Regions from separate parts of the Homo sapiens genome. Here region 2 is linked to region 1. Evidence: fine-mapped expression QTL. Tissue or cell type: whole blood. Region 1 holds a variant in brackets; the other region holds the start of a gene. All regions are shown on one strand. Distances are from middle to middle.

What was found. PIP is the estimated chance that this variant, and not a neighbour inherited with it, causes the effect.
Region 2: ZNF559 starts here. The variant in region 1 is fine-mapped to the expression of ZNF559 in whole blood (INTERVAL, PIP 0.99).

Annotation. Positions count from the first base shown.
Region 1 is chr19:9,130,596-9,133,282 of GRCh38, reverse strand. No RefSeq gene overlaps it. Among named protein-coding and RNA genes, the nearest start is that of OR7G3, 5.0 kb to the right of the region's middle. The variant C/T (reference allele first, on the strand shown) is at 1,159.
Region 2 is chr19:9,323,020-9,325,706 of GRCh38, reverse strand. It overlaps ZNF559 (zinc finger protein 559), which reads right to left and starts at 1,528. Exons shown (of 7, transcript NM_032497.3): 1 at 1,479-1,528; 2 at 927-1,012. ZNF559-ZNF177 (ZNF559-ZNF177 readthrough) reads right to left here and starts at 1,528. Exons shown (of 13, transcript NM_001384659.1): 1 at 1,479-1,528; 2 at 927-1,012. RefSeq lists a silencer at 1,125-1,264 and an enhancer at 1,435-1,684.

The DNA of each region.
Region 1 (2,687 bases):
AGAGAAACCCACACAGGCCCCATTTTTTGTCACCATCACTGCACCATTTCATACCCTATCAACTTTAGGTTTTGTTCTTCATTTGTTTCAGACTGGGTTTGGGCTTTATCTGCATTTTGTCAACATTATGTCACCATTTCTTTTCCAAAAACTTACTGTACTAGGCCATTATTGTGTTGGTATAAAGAAATACCTGATGCCAGGTGCGGTGGCTCGTGCCTATAGTTCCAGCACTTTGGGAGGCCGAGGTGTGTGGATCACTTGAAGTCAGGAGTTTGAGACCAGCATGGCCAACATGGTGAAACCTCGTCTCTACTGAAAATATAAAAATTTGCCAGGTGTCGTGTGTGCCTGTAATCCTAGCTACTCTACTCAGGAGGCTGAGGCAGGAGAATCGCTTGAACCTGGGAGGCGGAGGTTGCAGTGAGCTGAGATCACGCCACTGCACTCCAGCCAGGGCGCAGAGTGAGACTTGGTTTGAAAAAAAAAAAAAAAAAAAAAAGCAATTTCTGACTCAGAGAAAGCTGGGATTCTGTCTAAGGAGGATTCCACCAGCTCCCTAGGGGTCCGATCCTAGGATCCAAGAATGAGATACCCTCGGGATAAGAGGAAATGTGGTTGGAAGAGAATGACATACAGCTTGTCCCTTGGGGTCAGAAAGTCAACCATCCAGGAATTCCCCCTTTGTGCTCACGTCTGACCTGTGCTCATTAAGGATTTGAGCTGCCTTAGGGGAAGAAATGACAGTACTGTACACATCTAGCTAATGAGCAGCTTTGAAAATTGAGCTCCTAGGGGCCACAGAGACTGCAAATAATCTACCGGTGACCACTCCACTCAACAGCCCCGCTCATGTTAGGAAACATCACACCTGAGTCTTGCTCCAGAGATGATCCCTCTTGCCCAAGAGTGGGTTGCCTTACTTGGTTCATCTGCCCTTCTTGGGGATAGATCTTCCATTTCATCTTACAATTCTCCAAGAAAAAAAATGGAGAATTCCTTACTGATGCCTTCAAGGTAATCTGAAATGCTCCCAATAAATGCTGTGAGAAACTGAACAAGTTTTTTATTTTATTTTTTCTCCCATCTTATCTGGAGGACAACCATAAAGTAAGAGACAATTCAGCAGAATTGTTATAAGTGAGATTCCAAACTAAT[C/T]GGTGACCCTTTTCATGATATATTTACTTCCCCTGTTTTCTTACAATTTATAATCAGATTTCATTATTTTCAGCTCTCATTCTGTCTTCTAAATCCTAGGGACTCCTTCCCTACCTAAGTATGAATTAGTCCCTTCAAAAAGGAATCTGGCCAAGTGCGGTGGCTCACGCATGTAGTCCCAGCACTTTGGGAACCAAGGCGGATCAATCACCTGAGGTCAGGAGTTCAAGACCAGCCTGGCCAACATGGTGAAACCCCATCTCTACTAAAAATACAAAAATTTAGCCGGGCATGGTGGCATGCACCTGTAATCCCAGCTACTCAGGAGGCTGAGGCAGGAGAATCGCTTGAACCCGGGAGGCAGAGGTTGCAGTGAGCTGAGATGGCACCACTGCATTCCAGCCTGGTGACAGAGCAAGACTCTGTCTCATAAAACAAACAAATAAACAAAAGGAATCTACAGTTCTCTGGTTTTCCACATTCTTTTTTTTATTTTTTGAGAAGGAGTCTCGCTCTGTCACCAGGCTGGAGTGCAGTGGCTCCATCTCAGTTCACTGCAACCTCCGCCTCCTGGGTTCCAGCGATTCTCCTGCCTCAGCCTTTTGAGTAGCTGGGATTACAGGCGCCCACCACCATGCCTGGCTAACTTTTGTATTTTTAGTAGAGATGGGGTTTCACCAAGTTGGCCAGGATGGTCTTGATCTCTTGACCTCGTGATCCGCCCACTTTGGCCTCCCAAAGTGCTGGAATTACAGACATGAGCCACCATGCCTGGCCCCATGGTTTTCCTCATTCTTTTGACTGCAGATGGGGCTTTGATGAGATGTGTCTGGCTTTTCAATCTTCACCATGTCTGTTGCCAGATTTCACCCTTAAATAACTTGACTCTTGTCCCCATCTCTTGACAGTGAGAAACTCCAGAAGAGGAAGTTGAGACCCACTCACTTACATTTCCAGTCTTTCGGTTTCTCTTTTAAAACCCCAAAACAGGCCAGATGTGGTGGTTCATGCCTGTAATCCTAGCACTTTGGGCTTACAGGCATGGGCAACATAGCAACATAGCCTGGGCAACATAGCAAGAGCTCATCTCTGCAAAAAAAAAAAATTTTTTTTAATTTTAAAAATAGATTTAAAATACTAAATATAATAATAATAACAATAAAGTATAACACTTAAACATGAAGTCCTCTTGATTTGTTTTTATTCCTCTCCTTCCCTTCCTGGGGACCACCACTCTCTGAAATTGGTGGGCATTCACTATGCTTAGTTTAACACTATTATTACATGTAATAATAGTGCCATAATTTGTGTATCTATCCCCATACTGATGTTTGTTTAGCTTCTTTCTTTCTTACTTTATTTTGAGACAGGATCTCACTCTGTCACCCAGACTGGAGTACAGTGGCTCAATCACGGCTCACAACAACCTCGACCTCCTGAGCTCAGGTGATCCTCCTACCTCAGCCTCCTGAGTAGCTAGGACTATAGGTGCATGCCACCATGCCTGACTAGTTTTTGTATTTTTTGTA
Region 2 (2,687 bases), 190 kb before region 1:
TCAAGCGATTCTCCTGCCTCAGGCTCCTGAGTAGCTGGGATTACAGGTGCCCACGCCCGGCTAATTTTTTGTATTTTGAGTAAAGACGGGGTTTCACTATGTTGGCCAGGCTGGTCTCAAACTCCTGACCTCGTGATCCGCCAGCCTCAGCCTCCCAACATGCTGGGATTACAGGCGTGAGCCACCACACCTGGACTAAAGACATTTGTTTTACTCGAGCTACAGATGTTCTCTAGATCAGTATTTGTTTTTTTTTCTTCTTTTTGAAACAGGGTCTCACTCTGTTGCCTAAGCTGGAATGCAGTGACACAATAATGGCTCACAGCAGCCTCGACCTCCCATGCTCAAGTGATCCTCGCATCTCGGCCTCCAAAGTGGATGGGACCACAGACACCACCATGCCCAGCTAATTTTTTATTTTTAGTAGAGACAGAGGCTTGCCCTATTTTTTCCAGGTTGGCATCAAATTCCTGGGCTCAAGCGATCCTCCAGCCTCAGCCTCCCAAAACGCTGGGATTACAGGTGTGAGCCACCTTGCCCCGCCCTCAGTAAGACTTTCAAATGAGTAACTGGTAGAAAACCCACCTGTCAAAAGTTATCTTCGCATTCATTATCAATTCAATCCCTCCTGCTAGTAAATCAGCCCGCACCGTGTTCCTGGGGATGCCCTCGTTTTGAACCTCTGGGGGAATCTACAGGGCGCTAGAGTGAGATCTAGGTGATGGCCTGGAACCACAGTTGAGTAGTCCTGTGTTTTTCCTTGGTGGTAAATTTTACAGTTATGTGCATTCATCCACTCATGCATTCGATGGTATCAGATCCATGTGCTCTCGAACAACCACCTGAAAAGGTTTCTTTCCACCTCGACACAACTTAAACTTCAAGACCCGACACCCACAGCCAGAACAAGTGCATGAAGTGCTCACCGGGACACGACAGAATTGTCAGGTTGCTGAGGCCAGGAGGACACCAAGCGAAGGTCACCGTGAACAGGAAGGCAGAGATGCTGTTCCTTATAGAGAAAAGGCACAACGCTGGATGTGGAGACTTTTTTTTTTTTTTCCATTAGAGATGGTTGGGGGGGGGGGTCTCCCTATGTTGCCCTGCCTGGTCTTGAACTCCTGGCCTCAAGTAATCCTCCTACCCAATCCGCCCAAAGCGCTGGGAATGACAGGCGTGAGCCGCCGCGCCGGGCCCTATGAGGCTTCTGCAGAGGGGAGCAGGGAAAATGGAAAGGCCGTGCCCCCCGCCTCCTCCCGGGCCGAGGCCCCAGCGCAGCCGCCTCGACCCCTGAGGACAGACCTGACTGTGGCTCTCAGAGGAGGGGCCGCGACTTGGGAGAGCCCACAAGATGCTCGAAATGCCCGAAAGTGCACGGGACAGGCTCCATTTCACTGGGCACCTCCCCTTTCCACCCTTCTACTCTCGCGTGGCTGCACCGGGACACCACCGAACGCCGCCCAGAAACAAAAACTTACCTCAGACGCCAACGGGAACGCGCTGTTAAGATGGCGGCCGTTATGCGCATGCGCCCACGCAGACACGCCGCGCACGCGCAAAGGCTAGGACCACCTAGGGGGCGGGGCCTCGGGTTCCCGGGCCCATCAGCTGCTGCGGCTTTTTCCAACCCAGAGCTGAGAGGAAATGCTGTTTACCTCCCCGAAGAGCGCAAGTGTCACCGGTAGGGGGTCTTGACTGCAAGCTGTCCAGGTTACTGGCGTTTTGAACAAAGAATTAGACAAAACGCCCAGCAAAGCAAAGAAAGAATGAAGCAACAAAAGAACAAGAGCTGGGATTTGTTGAAAACGAAAGCATACTCCACAGTGTGGGAACTGGCCAAGCGGCAGCTCAAGGGCTCCGAAACAGAACCTTCATGAGTCCCAATACCTCCTAGAATTTTCCCATTGGCCACTTCATGCTCACCTCCTGTAAATGAAGCGGTAGCCCGCGTTCAGTCTGATTGGTTGCAGAAAGCAGCCAACCAGAGTCTGAAGTTACAAAGGTCACACTCCTGTGCAAACATCTGATTGGTTGCAAAAAGCAACCAATCAAAGGCTAGGGTGAAGTTACGACGTTACAAAGTTACACTTCTATGCAAATGAAGACTCAACCGGCCATCAGTCTGATTTGTTGCAGACAGCCAATTTCCTATCTGCCAGCAGAAAAGGTCAAAGGGAGTAGCCTCTGGTCCTTTTGTTATTTAGGCGAGGAAAGTGAGGGTTTTCCTTTCAATTTAGTTCTAGGAAGTCGGCCTGAAACAGCCTTAAGTTCCCTGCCTCCCGACTCTATTCAGCCTCACAAGGGCTTGATTTTTGGTCATCTCACACTCAGAGACTAGAATGCTCCTATTGGAATTTGTTCAAAAATTAGCACATAGAGGCTGGGCCTGATGGCTCACGCCAGTGATCCCAGCACTTTGGGAGGCTGAGGCAGGCAGACCACTTGAGCTCAGGAGTTCGAGACCAGCCTGGGCAATATGGCAAAACCCTATTCCTATAAAAAAGACAAAAAACACAAAAATTAGGACGTAGTTAAGAGCATAGATAAGATTCATGCGGACTTCCTAAAAGTGAAAACACCAAGATCTGGGGTCGGGGAATCTAAGGCCAATTCGTGATAATTTCCTAAAGTTAAATCAAAGGAAAAACACCTGGGGCTGGGGGCAGGGCACCTAAGGCCAATTAACA